4 linked regions of the Homo sapiens genome follow. The protein of the gene in region 4 interacts with the protein of the main gene of each other region in a pairwise test. Each region holds a gene or a part of one and is shown on either strand. Other genes may lie near its edges.

Evidence for each region.
Region 1: the proteins of TEX13A (region 4) and TXN interact in binary tests that used the Homo sapiens proteins (3 or more experiments, as listed by UniProt).
Region 2: the proteins of TEX13A (region 4) and ATP5PO interact in binary tests that used the Homo sapiens proteins (3 or more experiments, as listed by UniProt).
Region 3: the proteins of TEX13A (region 4) and TTC23 interact in binary tests that used the Homo sapiens proteins (3 or more experiments, as listed by UniProt).

The regions. Positions count from the first base shown.
Region 1 is NC_000009.12:110,253,494-110,260,884, forward strand, and holds the start of TXN (thioredoxin), read right to left. Parts: upstream 3,015-7,391; 5' UTR 2,943-3,014; coding exon 2,919-2,942; intron 1-2,918. UniProt on the Homo sapiens protein: Participates in various redox reactions through the reversible oxidation of its active center dithiol to a disulfide and catalyzes dithiol-disulfide exchange reactions.
Region 2 is NC_000021.9:33,902,916-33,905,823, forward strand, and holds the end of ATP5PO (ATP synthase peripheral stalk subunit OSCP, mitochondrial precursor), read right to left. Parts: intron 1,107-2,908; coding exon 1,020-1,106; intron 725-1,019; coding exon 611-724; 3' UTR 538-610; downstream 1-537. UniProt on the Homo sapiens protein: Subunit OSCP, of the mitochondrial membrane ATP synthase complex (F(1)F(0) ATP synthase or Complex V) that produces ATP from ADP in the presence of a proton gradient across the membrane which is generated by electron transport complexes of the respiratory chain.
Region 3 is NC_000015.10:99,135,792-99,141,606, forward strand, and holds the end of TTC23 (tetratricopeptide repeat protein 23), read right to left. Parts: exon of another isoform or gene 3,954-5,815; coding exon of another isoform or gene 3,905-3,953; exon of another isoform or gene 3,786-3,904; coding exon of another isoform or gene 3,609-3,785; coding exon 3,526-3,608; exon of another isoform or gene 3,476-3,525; coding exon of another isoform or gene 3,437-3,475; exon of another isoform or gene 2,337-3,436; coding exon 2,219-2,336; coding exon of another isoform or gene 2,170-2,218; 3' UTR 796-2,169; coding exon of another isoform or gene 646-795; 3' UTR 532-645; downstream 1-531. UniProt on the Homo sapiens protein: Participates positively in the ciliary Hedgehog (Hh) signaling.
Region 4 is NC_000023.11:105,218,429-105,225,214, forward strand, and holds TEX13A (testis-expressed protein 13A), read right to left. Parts: upstream 2,267-6,786; 5' UTR 2,167-2,266; intron 2,002-2,166; 5' UTR 1,970-2,001; coding exon 1,535-1,969; intron 1,331-1,534; coding exon 536-1,330; 3' UTR 501-535; downstream 1-500. UniProt on the Homo sapiens protein: Binds to ssRNA containing the consensus sequence 5'-AGGUAA-3'. Plays a role in transcriptional repression. Required for rapid sperm motility and timely degradation of mRNA via its interaction with CNOT1.

The sequences.
Region 1 (7,391 bases), on a different chromosome or scaffold from region 4:
GACAGGAAAAAAGGTCAAGAAATGCCAATGTCTGGTTGAATAGACATTTTTGTTTTTTTAACATGATTAACCCTTATTAAAAACTTGAGATTACTTTCAAGAGGGAAGGTATTTCAAACATACTCAAGGCTTTTCCAAAACAGTTCTGAATCAAATTTAAGCACAAGTACCTAAAATTCTGAAAAGAGGCACGCAACAATAACTTTTAGCCTAACTGAACATGAGTTACACCCCACGTATGTGCAGGCTTCATGTACAAATTCTCTTCTGATACTTCTAAACGGGTATCAGCTTGAAAATTATTCAAGATTGTATTACTAAGAAGAAATCACAATTTCTAGCTCCCAGAAACTAACAGGATTAATAAATGTCTCCATCACTGACACCAATAATCTGGGGGAAGCAGAACAGTGTAGTTGGGGTAAATAGGAGCAAGAGTCTAAGATCTCGTTGCCTCAACATACCTACTCTGAGGGTAATAAGTGTGAGTGGTTTCTGAAGTACTTAGCCAAGTGCCTTGTAGATGGGAGTTCAATAAATGGTAGGTGTCATTTTTTTTAAAAGTGTTTATTTCTTCCTCATCACATTTACAGTCAATTATTCCATTCCTCTCTGAAATAGATCCCAGTTGGCCCTAAAGCACCAACAGAGTACCTCAGAAACAGAATTGTTCTGAATGGCAAATGGTGCAAATTTAGCCCATTAGGATGAAAATGTAACATGTATTCAACATTTACAAATAACAGGCTGGGCGTGGTGGTTCACGCCTGTAATCCTAGCACTTTGGGAGCCTGAGGTTGGTGGATCACCTGAAGTCAGGAGTTCGAGACAAACCTGACCAACATGGTGAAACCCCATCTCTACTAAAAATACAAAATTACTGGGCATTTTGGCAGCGCATGCCTGTAATCCCAGCTGTGCAGGAGGCTGAGGCAAGAGAATCGCTTGAACTCAGGAGGTGGAGGTTGCAGTGGGCCGAGATCGCGCCACTGTACTCCAGCCAGGGCAACAAGGGCAAAACTCCATCTCGAAAAACAAACTAACAGACAAATAACAATCAAATTAGTGTAACTTTCGATCAATGACTTTGGATTGTTATTTTGAGGATTAATTGATTATCAGGGCCTTTGGGCCCCAGGCTGTAGTGCTTTTTTTAAAGTTCCTGTCACCCTTGTACACCTTTGTCACTGGTAGAGGAGGAAGGTGCTCTGACATGCTCTGACAACTGGGAGGACTAAACTGTGTGCTCCAGAAATCCTAATCAACTTTGTTTGTAGTGTCTGGATTTTGGGACAACTAACATAGACCACTCAAAGGTCTTCTGGCTCAGTGGAGGGGGTTCTTAGCAGTTGGGTTATACTGAGGTTGCCAGACCCTGGAGAACAGAATCCCAGCCCCACTCCCTTCCCCAGGAATGGATTAATAATTTGTCACACAATAGGTGCTTGGAAAAAAAGTATATGAAAGACAATTCACTACTAAGGATCTTTTCAACACATGAGGGCTGCTAAAATGAGAATCCCACTAAGAAAAAACTGATTGAGAGGAAGATAAAAGATGACAGTGGCAATCAACATATGAGGAAAAAACACTGAGAGTCAATAATAATCAAAGGAACAAAAGGATCGGGGACACATTGCAGACACACTTCTGTTTCCGAAGCCCACCCGGCACCAAACAGGTCAGGGCACCCGAGGCGGGCGAGGACCCGCCCTCCTCTGCTTCCCGCAGGTAGGGAGGGGTAATCGCAGGGTAGGCGCTGGCGAGGGGTCTTCTACCGTTCGAGCAGTATCAATTTCCTCCACTCACTTTTCTGACGCTGCATTTAACAAATATTTCTGGAGTGGCTACATTGGACTAGACACTGCGCGTTAGGCTCTGGGTTTCCCAGTCTACAAGGTTTTAGGCTTGCAATAACTTTCAAACATGGGAAGGCTGTTTCGCCTTGGGCATTTTTAAGAGGACAAAACAACGATCGGGATACCGATAGGTCGGCGAGCAGGCAGCAGGGCGCGGCTGCTCCCAGGAGGAACCCTGGCTCCAGCAAAACCCACCGACTGAGGGTGAATCATGGACGGGCAGGGCAGCCGAGGCCCCCGGGCCCAACCTTGGGGACTCAGTCATTCCAAAGCCACTGCTGCCGGAAACGCGCCCTGCGCCACAGGAGTCCCGTGGGCGCGGCCCGGACCTCACTTCCTCGCGGTCACCTGGGGCCCTCGGGCCTCCTGGACAGACCTGCACGTGCCAGGGGGTCTCCAGCCGCAATCCGCCCCCTTAGTGCGGATACAGCACGCGTCACCTTTGGGGTCGGGCATGGGTGGAGGCAGGCGGGGGTCTCCGGCCTAGACCCGCTCCCAAAGGGAGATCACTACCCCCGCTGCGGGTGGATCACTTCACATACGGAAAGGCAGCGGCGGCCACCGACCCGTGCCTTCTGCAAGGGCCCTCCCTATCCTTGCCTGGGGCCTGAATCTGGATACAGATGGGGGGCCAAGGGCGGACCCCTTCCATTCCCTCATCTTCCTCCAGTCGGGGCTGCCCGGACGGGAGGGTGCAGGAGGCGCAGCGTGGGGACTCCTCACGCTGTCTGCGCTCTCACATCCCCCGGACGCTCCCCGCGTGCGTGCAATCCCCCGAGGAACAGGGTGCGAGAAACGCTGGGCACCGCCACTCCGCCCTCCAGGGGACCCTCGTCCTTCTCCTCCCTTCCTCCAGGGCAGGCTCCACCGCCTCGGGCGCGCCCAGGCCGCTGCTTCCCGCAGTCCCAGGCCGAGACGCCGCGTCCCTTTCCCCTGGCGATGCGGAGGGGCGGCCTCCGCACCTCCCGCCACCGCCTTCCCCACCTCCCGCCACCGCCTTCCCCAGTTACAGAGGCCGCGCGCGGCGCCGGCACCCTGGCCTTCCCCGGTAGCGCGTACCTTGCTCTCGATCTGCTTCACCATCTTGGCTGCTGGAGTCTGACGAGCGGCTGTAAGGACCGATGGAAATGGATCCAAAGCACCAAACAGAGCTTCAAGACTCGCTGCTTGCTCTCTCCCTTTATAAACTGGCACGCCCGGCGTGCGTGTGGCGGGGGCGCGCGCGCCCGGCCGGACCTCCGCGCCCGTCGCTGCGCCCCGGCCACGCCCCGCCCCTGGAGCCTGCGAGCCGGGATCGGGGCGGGGCTGGCGCAAGCGTGGGGCGGAGCTCCAGGGCTTCGGCTCCTGTAACCCCAAGCCCAGCTCGCACTCCAGCTGGAAGTGGGGATCAGCACTGCGCGTGACGGTGGGAGGCGGGGAGACGGACAGTCACCCCCAGAGACACAAGGTCCCTCCCGGGTCACCTGGGGATGCGTCCGCCGGGCCTGAATCGAACACGCCCACGCTCGAGATGGGGACCGCCCAGGCAGGGCTGGATTCCTCGAAAAGGGCCGCCACGCCCCGGCCCCCCCAGCCACGTGAACCCCACAAAGTGCTGAGTAACGGTGACCGGGAAGTATCTCGGTGTGTACGTCCTTGCCTCCTCTCCGGAATTTACCGTGACCGTTCTCTTCTCTGTAACCTCCTTCTGTTCTTTCATTTTCACTGCTGAGCCCGCTGCTCCAGCTTGACACAGCGGTTTAGTGCGGTAGAAACGACCGGGGGACTGGTTGGGCTCTTGACCATCAGACAGCTGCGTGTGAGATGGAAGTGCCACTGGGTTGAGCTCTGCAACTTAGTTACGCAGTTGTGACCCTGGAAAGGTCCTGACCTCCTGAAGTCTCAGTGTTTCCTTCTGTAGAACGGGAATCATGATGGTCTCAATCTCACGGTGGTGGTATTTTGAGGGTTAATAGTGCTTGCAAAGGACGGTGCTTGGCACATAGTAAACACTCCATAGATAGTTCTTACTGTTCGGTGTCTTGCAGGGACTGATTGGGCCTGGCCACCTTATACAGCATTTACAATGGCACAGCACGCACACTTGTGTGAGATTCTTCTAACAGAGGCAGACTCCTGGAACAGAAGTCGGAGTTTGCATTGATCCAGGAATGCCTGTTGCAGGTTATGTCTGGCAGGGCTGGGGATTGTGGAAGGTGGGTATGTTAGCTGGCCTTGTGGAGCCAGGAGGGCCTGTCAGCGGCTGGAAGTGGAGGTTGAAAAGCTGCTCACAGGAACGAGAGCTAGAAGGCTGGGAGGGAGAGTCCCAGGTCTGTGTTTTCAGAGCTGAGCTGTTCCCGATGAAGCTGCAACTAGGTGTGATTGCCTAGGGGTGGTGATACTGCTGCCTGGCTGCCCCCTGAAATCCCTGGCTTCCTTCTTTCACTCTTTCAGACAGAGGAAGGGAGGAAACCAGAGGTTTTGAATCTATTGTGCAAAGTTTCTAGGGGGCTGAGGAGCACGGAGCATGAATATGGATATAGGCAAGGGACACATTCTAAAGACAGCCCATAGGGAGGGAAGACAGACTGCCCTGAATGCAGCAATGTTCCCAAAGAGAGGGAGGTTATTGGGGCAGAGAGGAAGGAGCTGTATGGAGCACCCAGAGCAGAATCTATAACCTGCTTTTCTGCTGCTGGGTTTTCAGTTCAGCTGCATCCCAGCTTCCTGACTTTTATCTGTTTGTTGGTGAATTTGCATGGGTGATAACAACAAATCATTGAGTTCCAGGAAGGGGCAATGCAGGCCATCCTCAGCTGACTTCTCTCCAAAGACCTTCCAAATGTCCAGTGACTCAGTGAAGGAGGTACTCCCTCTCTCCCACCTCCACAGCACCAATGCAGAGTAGATGTGGAGGATGGTACAGTTATAAGGAACTGGGAGGCCAGTCTGGACTCTGCAATTTGACTCCGTTGTCCTCATCCCTACTCTACCACTTCATGACTGGGTAACTCTAGGCAAGTCTAAATAGCCTTTTTGTGCCTCAGTTTCCTTATGTGAGAAGTGGGCGTAATAATAGCTTGTGCTATTATAAGGGTTGAGTGAACTAAAATATATGTAAAATGCTTAGAACCGTGCCTGGTGTGTAGTGAATGCTACATGAACTATGATTATAGGCTATTAAATGAATGATGAGATCCATCTGGAATGATGGCAGAGCTAGGGTGGAAGGAGAGATTATAAAACAGGTGTCAGTCTTAAATGAATTAAGTAATGAAGACAGTAGTAATGAACAGTGAGCTCCGTAACATAAGCCTCAAAGGAAAAGGCCTTTTTTTTCCCTGCAAGGAAGAAAGAAAAGTGGGCTGCACCTGGTCCCAAGGAGCAGGTTCCCTGCATTTGTGGCAAGGAGGTGACGTTCTTTGAGGAGAGTGAGGTACAGGGGAATTATTTGGGACTGCCCAGAGAGGAAGCGTTCATTTGTGCAGAGAAATGTAGAGGCTCTGTGTGTTAGTCAGAATTTTCAGTTGCAAGGAGAAATTCTAGCTCAAACTGACGTAAAGCAAAAAGAGAATTAGTAACTCAGATTAGCAAGAACCCCAGGGGCCTAATGATGTCAAAGGGCACCATCTCTCTTAGTTTCATTCTCAAGTAGGCACTCTATGTAAGAGTGGAGTAGGCAGCTCCAGACTTAGGTTCTTACTAGTTTAGTATCTCTACAGGAAGAGTGTTCCTCTTCCTTGTTCTTATAAATGTCTGAGAGGCTGACCTTCACTTTCATGGTGGGGAAAGGGATTAGCCTTGCTTGAAGCTTTGCACTAAGAGTAGGGAAAATCCAGGGGGTTACCAGAAAAGGGGAGATTGCTGCCGGACCAGCAAAAATGATATTTTTATGTCACCCAGAAGGGCGGAAACATGTAACAAGGGTGATGGGCCTGCTTCAGGCCTGGGTCAGCTGAGTCCAGCCTCCACATGGGACTGGAGAACTGGGTCAGCTGTCTTTGTTTGGGTCTCAACTCGAATTTGAAGAAAATGTAATTGTAGGATTTCTGAAACAAGTTTTTCTCACATCCCACGTGTCTCTGAGTGGTTCTTGACCACCTAATTCATCATAGCCAAAGGTGCTCGATGATACTGCACATTCCTGGACCACACCCAGACAGACATACAGAATCAGTCTTTTGAGGTAAGGCTTTGTAATCTGCATTTTTAAAAAGCATCTCAGGTGATTGGGTACACTAAGATTTGATGAGCTTTGCCATGGGACCTTCAGAGGGAGGCCAGCATTAGTTAAGCTTCAAGACTGTGTCTAGCAAGAGAGTTGAGATGGGAACTCAAAAGAGAATGTGGTAAGTGACATAAAATCAGGAGCTCGAAGTACTACAGTAAAAAAAGTGGTAGAAGGAAAAGGAACAAATTAACCTGGGTGGGACAGTCATTAAATGCCAAGCCTAGAGTTGGGCGTGTCTTATCATTCCTCTCAATATCCCTTAGAAGATAGACATTATTTTTCCTATTTTACAGAGAAAGAAATTGAGATTCAAAGAGGTCACCTAGTCATATCCAATGTTCACTAATTCTTATACTCTGTCCATGAAGGGTGGGAAGTATCAGCACAGTTCTCAAGCCCATCTGCATATATTAAGTACTCCTCATTTCACCAGTGAAAAATATCTGACATCCCTTATGCTAATGTGCCGTATATTACAACACATCAAATCTTAACTATTTAGATTGTAAAAACTAATTTACGCATAACTATATCACACTTTAATTGCCAAGTATTTTAATGTAAATTTCAGATAATATAATAACCCCTGTGAGTAACCTACCCTGCACATCACTGCTCCTTATAGCCCTTAATTTGGTCCAGTGGTCACCCTTGCTGCCCGCTTGAGCCCTTTCACCATGTAGCATGGAATCATCTGGATTCAGCAAGCACCACTGTATTCCCAGATGTTTCTTTTTGCTTTAACCGAAAGTTTTGCCCATCTCAGTGTATATCATTGCATGACATACAATGCTCCATGTATGTCACAGCCAGGCGGTAAGGCAAGTGCTTCCCTTTGCTGCATCCAGATTCTTTCTCCTTCCAAAATCCCAGATTTTTAGAAAGAAAAAAAAAATTTTTTTTTGAAAGAAAAAGGAACTTGACCTTTACAGCATGCCATAAAATTACTTAGAATTTACCAAGGAACTCCTGGAAGAAGACATTAGAGATAATCTTTGCAACCTTGAGGTAGGCAAATATTTCTTAGGCAGAACACAGAAATCACTAGCTATAAATGAAAAAGTTAATAAATTTGGCTTCTCACAACACACATACACAAATATGTGAGGTGATGCATATGTTAATTAGCTTGATTTAGCCATTCTACATTGTATACCTATATCAAAATATGTTGTACACCATCAATGTATACAAGTTTCACTTGTCAATTAAAAAATAATTTTTTAAAAATGGGGGAAGCTAGCAGTCTTGCATCCCCTGTGAAGGGATGTATGTTCTAGTGGGTGGATTTTACTTGATATTAAGTATTGTTATAAGTAGTT
Region 2 (2,908 bases), on a different chromosome or scaffold from region 4:
GCGCATGGTGTTAGTTATACAGTGGTAAAAACATGGGCTGTAGGGCCTGACACCAGCTGTCCAGACAGGTGACTCTGAGCACATCTCTAGGGCCCCTCAATCTCTTTCCTCATTTGTAAAGTGGGGTGATGTCTCTCCCACCCGTGTGACAAGGCTGTCATGCAGCTTCAGATGTACATGAAATGGCCTTGAAAGCTACAGAGCAGCCTACAACTAGGTGTGTTCATGTTAGGATCAAGGGCAAGAGGCCTCCCTGGAGGGCTATGGATCAAACACAGATCCGATGATCTAGTAGGGACCAGGAACTCTGAACAAACCCTTAAAGACACGGGATTTTGGCAGGCAGGACCAGATAGACTTTGCTGAGTGACCATGTGTTAGGTGCTGTGTCTAACCAATTAATTCCTAAACATAATCTACTCAAACCAAATTCTCTAGGCCAAAAGGGCTTTTTGGCCTTTATACTCAGGGGATACCAAAAAAGGACATAAAAATAAAGCCTTCTACATTCCAGTTTAAAAGACAGTGAACATAATATGATCTGTTCTGGAAGCTTTTTATTGTTGCTCCAAGTTTAAGAATTTTCACTGATGGCAGAAAACCAACACTTTTAGACAATCTCCCGCATAGCCCTGCCCAGCTTCTGAATCTTGGTCTTGACAGACATGTCAACATATTTCTCGCCAATGCGCACAATCATTCCACCCAAGATTGACGGATCAGTCTACAAAAGAAGTAAGACTGGAAATGTGAAAACGCGCTAATCAAATGGGACACACAAAAAAGTGTTTTGAAAGGCTAAATGTGTTGCACAAATGTAAGAGGTTATAATTACACCTAGAAAAAGGCAAAAGTAAAACTGCACAGTCAGATAATCATTTAAATTTAAAATAAATACAAAATTTTAACTACAGAAAAATTAGTATAGAGTTAGATCTAATATTTCACTAGTACTTTCTGTAGCCATTTTAAGCTTAAAATAACCCGAGAAAACGTACCATAAATAATTTAAAACCTACCTTAGCCTCCAATTTCAATACTTGGCCTTGACTTAGGAAGCTCTTGAGGACAGTTTTTAATTCAGAGAGTGTGGCTTCTTCTAAAGGCTGAAAGGCAAAACCATCCTTTCAATTTAGATAAAGCAAAACAGAAACTTCCAGAGTTAAAATACCCCAGGCCCACATCACCAAGACAGGCCTTGTGAGCTCCTCCCTTTGCTACCTGGGCCCATCATGGAGCTGCTCTGCAGCATTCACTCCTTGTTCACGCTGGAGGTTCAGGGAGCACAGGAAGGCCCTGCCTCACAGCATCACCCGGGCAGCTCCCACTCAGCCGTTCAAGGACGGCCTGTAAATGCCACTCCCTCCCTGCCTCTGCTCTGTGTGCTAGCAGTACAACTTGGAACTAACAAGGAAAGGCCTTCAAGTTTCTAATGCCTGAAGATGCAGCCCCATCAATGCAGGAGGACACAGGCCTCTCCTGGGTGCAGCCCTGGGGACACGACATGCATCTATCATGTCCTTGGCTGAAAAGTTGCCATTTTAACCTGGTTTTACATCTTCATGTTTGCCTAGCTCTGCTGGCTGTTCATCTCCCCGCATCCACAGCTACCTGGAGCTCTGGCAGGCCACTCCACTCTCTGAACCCCAGTGAGAGAACCTGGAGCAGTTGGCTTTTCCTGAAGTCAGCTCAGCTCCATAACCTACTTTAGAGCAAGCACCTCAAATGTCCAGACTGCACTCTCCTCTCGGCCCCAACTCTTACTCCTGGTTAGTTATGTTATAGTGTTAAGTGTTCTAATGGTGAAAATGAAGAAGGCTGTTAAACCAAAGGCCTTTTTTTTGAGACCGAGTCTCGCTCTGTCACCCAGGCTGGAGTAGAGTGGCGAGATCTCGGCTTACTGTAGCCTCCGCCTCCCAGGTTCAAGTGATTCTCCTGCCTCAGCTTCCCAAGTAGCTGGAATTACAGGCGCATGCCATCACACCCGGCTAATTTTTGTATTTTTAGTAGAGACGGGGTTTCACCATGCTGGTCAGACTGGTCTCGAACTCCTGGCCTTGAGTGATCCACCCGCTGCAGTCTCCCAAAATGCTGGGGTTACAAGTGTGAGCCACCACACCCTGCTAAAAAGGCCTTTTTTTAACTTGTCATAAATCCTACCTCCCTGGCCCCTCCTCTAAGAGCCTAAAAAAATTTGGCAGAAAAATTTATGTCTTTGTAAAGATATAACAATATCCTTTTTTTGGGGGTGGGGGGTGCTGGTGGTGGCCAGAATCTATTCGTGTTCAAAACATGATTTACTGAGACTAAAAGGTTACAGAATTCTGAAATATACATACCCTCCACTGAGACATGTACCAACTGCCAGGTACCTGTCTATGCCAGGCACATTTCATGCCTACTATCTCCCTTCATGTGGGCAACCCTGAAAGGCCACCGGTCATTATGCCCATTTTACATATGAGGGAACGGAGGCTCAGGGTGGGTAAGAAACTCACCTAAGGCCACATCAGCAGGTGAGGACCAGCCCCAATATTTGAAACCAGTCTGTGTATTTCTAAAGCCTGTGCTCTTAGTCACTCATCAAGACATAACGTTTTTCAAACAGTACAGACTCACGCACCCAACAGTATCAACATCAAAAGCATTAGTAACAGTTGGTTCTAAAATCTTTTGCAAAAACAAGCATCCTTTAAAAGAAAATCATGGCCTTGTGGCTGTGCACGGTGGCTCACACCTGTGGTCCCAGCACATTGGGAGGCCAAGGTGGGTGGATTGGCTGAAGTCAGGAGTTCGAGACCAGCCTGGCCAACATGGTGAAACTCCATCTCTACTAAAAATACACTAAATTAGCCGGGTGTGGTGGCAGGTGCTGTAGTCCAGCTACTTGGGAGGCTGAGGCAGGAGA
Region 3 (5,815 bases), on a different chromosome or scaffold from region 4:
GGCAGACAGAGCATAAGCCAATTGGCTTGTAATCAAATATACACTGGACAATTTGTGGTAAAAATGTCATCATCACAGCCTGAATGACTAGTGGCAGTAGGACACCACCAACCATCCCATTTGGGATGGAGAGGTTTCTTGGGATGTGGTACTTTGAGTGCTAAAACCAGGACTGTCCTGGGCATACCAGGACAGTTGGTTACCTTATAAGTGCAAATTGGAGGGTTAACCCTAAGGCATGGCCATTTCTTAGGGGCTTGAAAAAACTGAGGTAGTTTGAGACAAAGGAATAGCTAGATATCTTTACCCGTTTGTAACCTTGTAGCCCTTTACCAAAAATAGAAAAACACAAGTAGCTATAGTCTTCCTCTCGTTGAAGTCAACAGAATTAACAGATGGGAGACATTGGAGGGAACATTCCTAAATTCATTGCTTCCTGGGGTGGGGTGGGGTGGGGGCGCTAAATTTTAAAAATGTGTTTTAGTTTTTGTGATTCCAAGCTACGCTTCAAGAAGTACAGAAAGGAAGAAGTAACATCAGAATTCACATTTATTTCAAAAACTCGGCATGGACTCTCAGTTCAGGCTGCTGTAACAGAAAGCCGTAGCCTGAAAGGCTTAAACAACAAACATTTATTTCTTACAGTTCTGGAAGCTGGGAAGTCTCAAGGTGCCAACAGTTTCATTTCCTGGTGAGGGCTCTCTTCCGGGCCTGCAGACGGCTGTCTTCTCACTGTGTCCTCACATGGTGGAGAGAGAGATCATCTCTCTGGTGTCTCTCCTTATAAAGCACTAATCCCATTCATCAGGGCTCCACCCTCATAACCTAATCACCTCTCCAAGACCCCACCCCCAATACCATCCCTTTGGGGATTAGGGCTTCAACGTGAATTGGGAGCATATGAACATTCACCCCTTAGCTGACTCCACCCATGTCAACTAGATAGGACACACGGTGAGTAGTGACATCTTACACGTTTTTAGCACACTGCTGATGTCCGACAGGCCTGGGTCTGGGACCAGTGTGTACCAGCAAGCATGGTCTGTGGGGTCAGCTGTCACGCTCCTGAGGAAGACAATGGTCCCTGCTTCTCTCCACCCTGTCGTGGCTCTACTGAGTTTATTTTCCCCATCAATACTGGAGGTGGTGCCCTGCACAAATGGCCCCAGGGTGGTTTTGATGTCCCACTGGGGGCTGGAGGGGAGGGCCCTGTGCTGCAATCTGCTGTCATAGCACCAGCCTGCAGCCTCATGGCCACAGTCTGTGGGACCAGGGGAGGGAGGGGAAGGGACATCACTGCCCACACCTGCACCCCTACCCCTGGGTGTTCCATCCACCTCGATCTGGCACTGGATCTCCTCGTTGACATCGTGGAGGAAGGCACTCAAAGCTTCCTGTTCGACTTTGCCATCCTCACACGACTATGGCCTCCTTCCAGGGGGCTGAAGACTGCTGTGTACACGATAGTGTGCCAACTCAGGAAGCAGCTCCAGGTGGCATCCAGGTTTGTCCTGCCTGCAGTGGAGGCCACAGGAGGGATGCGAAGCAGCAGGGAGTCTGCGGTCTTCCCCCCGCAGCCTCCGGCTAGCCTTTCTTTTCACTCCCTTACACCTGCCTCCTGGGCCCCAGGCCAAGTCAGGTGTGTCGGCCTCCTGCCCCTCCTACTGGGCTCTTTCTCAAACCCCTTTTCAGGCTCCGAAGAACTCTGAGGCAGGCTGCACTTTGAAAACACATGCTGACAGCAGCGTGTTCAGGTTTCCCTTTATTAGCGTTTTCTTCTCATGTTATTCTCAATCCCTATTAGCCTCCTATAAGAAAGGACTTCCTGAAGTTCACTGTCCAGATCTAACTCCACACCTATGCAAGGAGCTGTGTGTACAAGCAGATGCCGGGCTGACTCCTGCACAGGGCGCACTGAACTGTTGAAGAGAAGTTTTTCAGCCACAGTAGTGCTGATGGGTAAAAATTCTTGTTGGCAAGAAAAACCACTTAGGTGATAGAAAACTGCTTTATAGCATATATCACCCTGAAGGGCATCCACTGTCAAAATGTGGCCCACGGGAGGCTTATGGTCTCACTGTTGCATGTTGGGGCCAACAGTTGGCCTTGGAAATCTGTATCCTGACTGTTGAATTCCATTTTCTAGGCGGAGGTGATTTGTACAGCACCCTAAATGACAGTGCCCAGGAATGTCCTAGGCTTTTTCAGGGTGGGGGCCTCAGTCTGCTGTTGTGCCGGGCCGGGCCTTCCCCAGCAGGGTGTCCTGAGGGATGCTGGTGCAGAAGGCCACTTTGGCTTTTGATGCCTGCCTTGGCTTCGAAGCAACCTTGGGGGCCCTGCAGACAAGCAGAGGGTGGGGTGAGTGTGGTGCCCCTCAGCCCCCCACACCGTTCCCATCCAGCCTTTGCTGCCCAGCAGGTGCCCAGACCCATTTATGAGAAGACTTGGTAGGGGCTATAAATGAGAGGAGAATTGTAGCACAGAGCATAAAACATGAGATGTTTTCCTCCCATCTTTTATTTTTTTAATTTTTTTTTTTTCAGACAGAGTCTCACTCTGTCACCCAGGCTGGAGTGCAGTGGCCCCATCTCGGCTCCCTGCAACTTCCGCCTCCCAGGTTCAAGCAACTCTCATGCCTCAGTCTCCCGAGTAGCCAGGATTACAGGCACATGCCACCACGCCCAGCTAATTTTTGTATTTTTAGTAGAGACGAAGTTTTGCCATGTTGGCCAGTCTGGTCTCAAACTCCTGGCCTCAAGTGATCCACCGCCTCGGCCTCCCAAGGTGCTGGGATTATAGGCATGAGTCACCTCGCCTGGCCCCTCCCATCTTTTAAAATCACCTGTGACCATCCTCACTGAGCTGAGGCCCTCAACCCTTAGCTGGCTTGGTGAGCAGGACATGGGTGAGGAGGATGGTCAGGGTTGCACTGGAGGCCTCCCTGGCTCGCCTTCCCTGCCCTCAAAGGGGATGGCGCCCTGCTGGCCAGGTTGTGTCTGCTCCGGGCTGTGGCCCTGTTTCCCTGAGCAGACTCAGGCAGCCCTGGGGCTGCTCTCTGCGGACCAGGCTCTGTGAGGTAGGCCCTCCACGGCAGAGCGCTGGGCCTCTGCTCGGGCTGAGAAAGGACGTAGGGGCCAGCCTTTAAGGTCAGTCAGTGAACCTTCCGGCTCCAGTCCTGACGGGCATCCGAGGGCAGAGGGAAGCCGGAAGCAGGGCTGCAGGAGGCCACAGGGATTCCCGGGGCCCTCCCCCTGCAGCAGGTGCCTTAGCCTGCAGGGGCTGGTCTGCAGGAAGACAACATCCAGCATATATTTCTGACTTAAAGGATGAATTATTTTTAAATACCTGGGCAAGGAAGATCTTTTACAACTCGGGTTTCAAAGGAACTTGTCCTTTATGCAAGTTATGGGAAGTCAGCAAAACATTCCAGAGAAGGTTACACAGAACCTTCTAGAACCAGCTTTCTCTTGAGATTCTGAATGGAAAGGGAATGAGATAGAGAAAGTGTGAGGGACGCCAACTCACGTGGACAGCATGCCCATGGCCTGCTGGGTGGCCAGAGTCCTTTTGTCCTGCGGTCCATATAAGAGGGTCTGGATCTGGAGACACTGTAGAACACCAAGCAGCTATCATGAGGCTATGGAAGTGTCGCTGAGAGCAGGAAACTAAGGTCTCCCTTGAATGAGAGAAAGATGACCTCATTCTTAGGCCCTGCTGTGATGGAATTAGCATGCTCCTGGGATGTCTCCTAGTGACTGACCTTTGGTTTGGATGTTCTGAGGGATCTAGGCAAAAGTGAACAGTTTTAGCACTATTTCACAAAACTCTCTGTGACTATCTGTATGCAAAAAATAGATTTAAAAGTAGTATTTTTAAAAATAAAGGCAAGAACCTTGGTACTGACCAGAGGATGGGCTCCAGTTTCTATTTTTAAATGTGGCCCTTGTTATAGCCTGGAAAAGATTTAAAAAAATAGTTTTGTTTTTTTTGTAAACACATACTCTACTTTTATTAATATATAGGCTGTCTATACTCTTGACTACACAGCAATGTCTTAGTTATTAGGAACCAAATATTCAGCTTATGGACTACCCAGGGCTGGCTTTGGCTTGATTTCTCCCTTCTGCTTACTTTAAGTCTTGCCATTTGATTGCTTGTAGTAGGCTAGGGCAAATCAAGGAGAGGAGAAAGATTAAAGTTGTGCCCAAAATGGCCAAAATAATTTTGAGAAAGAATGAGGTGGAGAGGTGGAGGAACTTGCTTTACTGAATGCCAAAGACCCTTTTATTTTTTTAAATAAAGTAATTAAGACAGCATGTTTGTCACCCGGGGTAGACAAAAAGACCAGTGGAACAGGGCAGAGAGCCCAAGCCTTGACAGATGACAGAAATGGCCTTGCGGGATTGGTGAGGAAGAGGTGGGCTAGTCAATAAATGGGTACTGGGACCGCTGGTTTTCCAAATGGAAGAAAATGGATCACTACCCCAAATCAAACACAAATATTAAGCTCAAGAAAGATTTGAAGGACTAAGTGTGAAATGCAAAACTTGGAGCTTTTAGATGAAAATACTGGAAAATATATATATATATATTTTTTGATGGAGTCTCACTCTGTCGCCCAGACTGGAGTGCAAGTGGGGTGATTTTGGCTCACTGCAACCTCCACCTCCTGGGTTCATGTGATTTTCCTGCCTCAGCCTCCCGAGTAGCTGAGATTACAGGTGCCCGCCACCACACTCAGCTAATTTTTGCATTTTTAGTAGAGATGAGGTTTCACCATGTTGGCCAGGCTGGTCTCAAACTCCTGACTGCAGGTGATCCACCTGCCTTGGCCTCCCAAAGTGCGGGGATTATAGGAGTGAGCCACCATGCCTGACCGGAAAATACGATCTTGAGGTAGGGAAGTATTTCTTAGACAAGATCTAGACAAAGCAAAAGTGAAAGACTGATAAAATGTAACTATGTGAAAACCTAAAATATTTGTGCACCAAAATTCACCATAAGCAAAGTAGAAAGACAAGCCACGCTGAGGAAAGATTCTTGCAGTGCACAGAAATGAGAAAGGTTTAACATTCAGAATACATGAAGAATTCCTATAAGGTAATGAGAAATACCAAACCAAACCAAAACCTCTCAATAGAATAACACTCAAAAGATATAAACAGATTATTCAAAGAGTTGAAATCTGATGAAATAAACATGCTTAATCTCATTAACAACCAGAAATACAAACTAAAACCTCAATGAGGTAGGTACCATTTCACCCACCAGACTGCAAAAACTACCAAGTTTTGTTAAAGATACAAAGCAACAAGAATTCTTTTATATATTGATAGTGGGTATTCAAACTGGTATAGCCCCTTTGTAAAACAATTTAGCAATATTTAGTAATGAATATGTAAACTGTGATATGTATATATTATATATGTATGTGATATATAAATGTTTGATATATGTATGTGTATATATAACCACATAGATGAATCTCATGATTACAAAGTCAAGGGGAAAAAGAAAACGACAGATGAATGCATATAATATGTATTATAATTTAATATGAAGTTTTAAAACATGCAAAACAAAACCATAGTAAAATAAGAAGAGCATGGGAATGATATCAAATTTAAAAAAGTAGTTATCTGGGGATGGGGTAGGTATAGAGGGGACTTCAACTGGATGGGTCATGTTTTATTTCTTATACTGAATGGTGAGTTCAAAGGTCTTTGTTATGTTATCCATACTTTTCTGCATAACAAATGTTTCATAATATATTTTTTAAAAATCGGATGAATTGTGCTACATAAATAGCTTGAGT
Region 4 (6,786 bases):
AATCGGCCTCTCTGTTCAGAGTGTCTAGCATGAAAAATCCATTTGGCTCTGGATGGGCCAAATATCCACTCCTGCTCCAATCATCTAAGGCCTAGATGCGAGTAGAGGGTGGGGTGTTATACACATGGTTGCCTCTTTTACCAGACACTAGGGCAGGGAGAGAGCGAGCGAGACATACACAAATAAAAGCTGCAGCACTTCTGGGGTATTGAGTGCAAGTGCTCTGGAATACAAAGGGGGTCACCAAAACATGTCTGTCTCCATGTGTCTCTCTCTCCCCACCCCAATCTATACCTCCCCTGGCCACCACCCCACTTCTACACCTCTTTCACAACCCCTACTTTCCTCCCCCTCCTCCAGTCACCACCCCTATCTCTGAAGTTATTCGTAAAGGTACCATTGTCTCACCTCCTTCCCCCACTCTTCCCAGCCTTCTTCCCCTACCACCCCGGCCCCCGCCACCACAAGCCTGCCCTCTGAAAATTAATTCGCCATCGAGATATACATGCTTCGGTTCTATTTTGCATTTCTGCACTCAATGAGGTTTTTGCAGCCAGATTCCCTTCCCACAGTCGAAGCAAGTATCCCTCCGTGAAAAATTCACAGCGTTACACCAAGGGCAGTCCCAGTCCCCTGGCCTGCGATATACTGGAGGTCTTTGCTGATGAGGTTCGGAGTATCTCCTGTCTCTTGGGTGCTCCTGATGGTCTATTCTGTGGGGCCCCCCATCAGACCACAGGCTAGTATCAAAGGCCTCCCAGTCGGAAGGCAGCTGAGGCGGAACTGGTGCTGTGACTGTTGCTTGTGGAGGGGATATAGTGGGTATGTCTGAGAAGGAGGAAAAAGGGCTTGAGTATGAGTATGAGTATGAGGCAGGGAGCTGGACAGGAAGAGGTTCTGATGAGGCTCTGGACCAGGGGTTCGTGGTTCCAGAGAAATAAGATGTGGCTGTTTCGACCGACCGGAGATCTCCCTCCTTCTGCCCCCAATAGGTGTACTTTTCCTGATCAGCATCTCCAAGGAGCTGCAGGAGGATTCTCTCCAGCTTCTCTGTGGTCTCCATGGAGGCAGCCCTGGCCTCCACGTGGGGGAACTGGGTCTCCATGGGGGCAGCCCCAGCCTCCACAGGGGGAGCCATGGCCTCCACAGGGGCAGCCACAACCTCCACATCCCTCTGCTCTTCTTCTGCTCCTTTTCCTCCAGCAGCACCAGCAGCAGCCACCGCCGCCTCTTCTTCCTCCTCAGCTGCTCCTTCTGTGCAAACCCCTCCGGCAGTGGCCAGGCCTGGCCACCCTGCCCCCTGCTCCCACTCATGGGGAGACACCAGCTCCTGGAGAGAAGTGGGCAGGGCTGAGGTGTGTTCTGGGGGCAAGGCGGGAGCACTAAGCAGGGTAGGACGGAGCTACCAGGTGGGAAGGGCGGGGCAGGGCGAAGCCATGGAGCAGGGTGGAGAGGGGTGGGAATGGGGCAGGGCAGTGGTACTGGGCAGGGACCAGTTGAGGGATCTTACTGCATGGAGCGGCTTCCAACTCACCTTGTCTCTCTCTTTCTGCACCTCCACGAGGCTGGTCTGGGCCATTCTTAGCCGGGAGGCCGCCTCCTTGCGTTCCGTCTCCTGCTGCTCCCTGAGCTTCTTCAGGTCTGATGCCAAGGCCTGTGCGGCTGATTTGTGCAGTTTGGCGAAGCCGTGCAGCCACCGCACCCTGTGCCTTTGTAGCTGTGCCTGCCTGTGGGCAAAGCGCACTCCCAAGGCCAGGCTGCCCCAGGTGCAGGCCTCTTTGACCTCACTGGGCACCTCGCTGTCCTCCAGTATGGCCCTCAGCTTGTCTTCCACCTTCTCCCAGGATAAGGATATATTCTCAAGATAGAACTCGGGGCCTTTCGTGTGCCTGGCCATTTTCTCGTTGATGAAGGCCACCACGTTGCTATGCCGGAACCCGCTACTGGGGTCCTCAGGTCTCAAGGCCATGATCGCCTAGGGGTTTAACGGTTTCACTAGCCCTGTGTGGATGGAGCAGCCAATAGGTTCCTTTCCTCCCCCTTAGCCCCTCCCCTCATCCATCTTCTCCCGCCCTCTTGTCCCCGCCCTACCCGCTCTGACAAGACCGTCCTAATGACCCCCTGACCGGCTTGTCCTACCCTAGGACACCTCCCACCAGGCCTCACCTCTTCAGCCAGGGCCAGAGGAAGTACAGGCCAACCCCGCTGTCTTAACACGCCCGAAGAGAGAGGAAGATCTCTCTCCCTCCTAAGGTTCCAGGGAAAGGAAGACTCAGGGCCAACGTCGGCTTTTACTCTGGGACTGTTCCAATTTCCAGAGATACCAGGAGTGGAAGGGAGTGAGTGAGGAAGGCCCCTGCCACTCCATTGGGATTTAAGGGAACCTGTCACATGGTTGGGAGCCCTTAAAGGTCGGAAGAAACAGGAGTGGTCAGAAAAGACTTAGAACCAAGAAAATTAAGCCCTTATAATCAAGTCAAAAAAGTCCCATGTATCCCTCCCTCTTGACAATGGTTTGTCCCATGCCAACGGCTAGTAGGGACCCCCCTAGAGGTTGAAGGGGGAATAATGGGTATGTTCTAGAACACGAAAAAGCCCCCAACCCATGAAAATTCTGCAGTTCATTTTCCAGACTCCTAAATCCTAGTATACAGGTTAGTGACCTTTTTCTGAAACGGGCAAGATAGCAGGCATTTGAGGCTTTGTGGGCAAAAGATTATCCCAACTACTTGTAGCACAAAAGCAGCCATAAATAATACCTGAAGAAATGACCATGGCCATGTTCTAATAAAAGTTCATTTATAAAACCAGGCAGTTGGCATGATTTGGCCTGTAGATGTCAAACTCCCAATCTAGATTCACATTTCATACATGTCCTACAGACACATACAATCAGAATGTTCATGATATGACTCCCCCTTTTCCCTGTTAAAAGAAAAACGTTAGACAACGTTAACAGTTTGTTTACACATAAACAACAACCAAAAAAAAAAAAAAAGAAAAACGAGTCATGAATTTGTCAGTACTCAGAACCAGAAGAGTTTCAGAGAGCTATTCCCAGCAACATGAGAAGTGAATTTTTATAGGCTGAGTTTGGACACAAAAGAGAAAAATCACCTGATTGGCTACAGCAAGGCATTTGCCTTATTTGGACATGGTCTTGTCACTTGACTGCCTGTAATTAGCTGGAGCCTGGCTAGTTGTGTTTGGCTGAAATTAGGCTGTCTTTTATACAGCTTATGTTAAGTTTCAGTCTGTTTACATGCTAAGTTAGTTTGCGGTTTGTTAGATAGGAACTCAAAGTATGGAAACAGCTTCAAACTAATGGCCTCTTGCTTATTTTAATATATGCAGGAGATGATTCCCCTCCTAAATTCCTATGTTGTCCAATACAGAAACCTCAAAATCAAATTTTTAAGTTACCTACCCTTCATACCGACCCTTAAAAACAAGTCAACTAAGAGACAAAATCTTGTTGCTGTGACCTCAGAAACTTCTAAGACATCCATGCCCACTTAGGGAATGTCCATGTTTCTTCTCAAATAATCTTCCTGTCTTTAATTTCTTCATAATCCCTAATCACTTCCTAATCTTTCCTATGATCATGTTTCTCTTAAGCTTAAAATCATTTGATGGATCCTTGTGGCACACTCCTTGTCCTGACATTAGAATCTCACCCCAGGATACCATTCTAATTTAACTCTCTCCACAATGTTATCCACCATCATTTATGTACCTAAGGGACTAAGCCATACAGGGATACACTGATTTTGGCGTTTTAAGTTATTTTCCCTTCTGAAAAATCAGAGCATTCATTTTTTATTATATGGGCATTATGTTCTATTCTATGAACTACATTTAAAAAGACAATATTTCTTCTCTAAGGGTCCTATGTCAGATAATTAGAGAGGAAAAAGACAATAAATCAAGCATTAAAATATTACCTAAGAAGGTAGTTAAACCCCAGAGGCATAAAGTCCCACCATTTAAATGCTGTTTTTAGATGCTGTTTTGTGATTTCTTTCCTTCTCAGCTTGTATATTTTATTTATCAGCCATCAGTGGAAAGGGTTCATGTTTTGGCTTATTCTAGAGTGACTTCTACAGAAAGAGCATCCAGAAGATAATGTAGAAAAGAGAATGGTGAGGAAAGGGGGAGAGACTGGAGTCAGGAAGACCCATTAGGGAGATGCTAAAGCAATTCAAGAAGTAAACTAAAGCAGTGGAAATAGGGATGGAGAGAAGAGTGTAGAGAGCCATTTGGTAGATAGAATGCATAGGGATGTCAGGGACAAGGATGAGGGAATGCTGAGGATAATGCCCAGGTTTCTGGTATAGGGGACTAAGTAGATAGCCCTGTTATTGACTAGTTGGAGAATGAAGAAGAATTTTTTGGGATGAGTTCACCTTTAGACATATTAACATTAAAATACCTGTTGGGGCCATGTGTGGTGGCTCACACCTGTAATCCTAGCACTTTGGGAGGCTGTGGTGGGTGGATCACCTGAGGTCAGTAGATGGAGACCAGCCTAGCAAACATGGCAAAATCCTGTGTCTACTAAAAATACAAAAATTAGCTGGGCGTAATGGCGCACGCCTGTAGTCCCAGCTACTTGGGAGGCTGAGGCACAAGAATAGCTTGTACCTGGGAGGCAGAGGTTGCAGTGAGCCGAGATCATGCCACTGCACTCCAGCCTGGGCAACAGAGTGAGATTCAGTCTCAAAAAAAAAAAAAAAATACCTGTTGGGCATCCTGGTGGAGATACTTAGTAGGCAGTTTGATATATGAGTCTAGAACTTAGGAGAGACATCAGAGCTGAAGATGTAGTATTGAGAGGTGAAAGCTGTATTTACAGCAGCGGTTGAAATAACTCAGGGACAGAATATGGAGCAAGAAGAGTAGAGGGCTGAGGACAGCACCGTGGCCTGCCTTCATGGATCTCCTCCTTTCTACAGCTGTGTGCTACCATTGGTGATTTTATAGTTGTCCCCCTTACTCCTTTGTGTTCTTGTCTACTAAGTTCAGAACATCTTTTACCTTATCTCTTTTATTCCCTCTATAATACTTTAAACATGAACTTCAGTTTGTGATTAGTTGTCTCTTTATACTGCCATTCTCCCACTTCCGCTTATAAACACTTTTAAGAAATTAAAAGTAAATTGTTTCTTTTAGCAGCCTGGAGGAGGGAGAAAGTGAAGACAGAGAAACCTGTTAAGAGGTTCCTTCAACAGTGCAGACAAAACATGATTAGGGCTTGAACTGTGGCAGGACCTCGATGAGATGTCAGATAACAAGAGATTTTTGACATACAGTTAGCATGACTTGTTAACCAATTGTATTAATATATGAGAAATAAATATGGGTGTTGGAGCGGAAAATGATTTTGAGGCATTTGACTTGAGAAACTAGGTTTTGTGACAAGTGATGCCTCAAATCGTAATAGATATGAGGAAAAATAGACTATAGAGAGGAGATAATAAATGCAGTTTTGGATTGACAAATGCCTTTGTGATAGTTATATTGAATTATAGTTGAATGGCTGTACTGGGCTGGAAGTTAGGTGAGAGGACAAAACTAGAGATATGTATTATAAATTTGGGTGTTTTCAGTGCTCAGTTTGTGGCTAAGACCTTGTGCTTCAATAAAATTGCTGGAGATGAAGGTTGGAAGGAGAGAATAAGCAGGACAAAAAAACAGAGGAAGGAATCCCGAGGTCTTGGAAAGGGTAGCAGATACCTTTAGGGATAGGATAAGGGAGAACAAGCAGTAGGAGTAGTCAGAGAAGTAGACAATCAAAAAAGGGAGATATTTTAGACCTAAGGAGAAATTTGGAAGGTAAAAAGAGTGTTATTAGTTTCATATAATGCACAGAGGTTACATAGGATGAGGGTGAACAAAAGGTCATTAGATTTAGCTAATAAGATATCCTTAGTGATTCAAGTGACGAGAATCAATAGAATGGTGAGGCAGGTGCCAGATGATAGGAGATCACAGAATGAAATTAGAGGAATAAGTAGAAATTTTGAATACTGACTAGTCTTTCAAGATCTCTGACACAGTAGAGAATTCTACCACCAGGAGTCAGAAAATAGATCATGGAAGCATAGGATATGACAGCTTATTTGGTGAGACAACTAAGTTATACAATTTTCAACACAAAGACGGGGAAAATAATCTGATATTTACTGTATGAAGAAAGGTAATCATATGTAAAGAAAACTCTGTGTTTTGCATTGTGACCCAGGAAATAAGGCCAAACCTTTGTGAATTCTATGATAGTAACTATGAAATAACATATTGACAGATGCAAAAATATCAGTGTAATCTGATATTTACAGAGAAAGAGTGAGGAAGTGAGAAATAGTTATTAGAGTCAGTGAAATTGGTTGGGGAAGGATTTCTGGAGGAGAGTTATGTTCTTGTTCTTAATAGAAACATCAGGGTTCTCCAAAGATTTATGAAGACCTTTCTGTTTGTAGCATGATGTGTCTCAGATTACCATTCTTAAAATTGTCTTCATCCAAACAAGAAAGCAGGAATCACTCATACTATGATGTGGACAATGGTGGTGTCAGGGAACCTTTCAAATTTACCTTCGTTATTACCTTACCTTTATCCACATCCTCAATCATTGGTAGTCAGATTTTGAACAAGCTGCCTGTACCCTTAGGTGGCATATTGCAACTGCCTTTCCCTTAGGAATGGTGACATGAGCTCACCACTAGAATGATCCACAATTCTTAGTTATATGTAAATGGATTGCTACATATATATGTACTGTATACT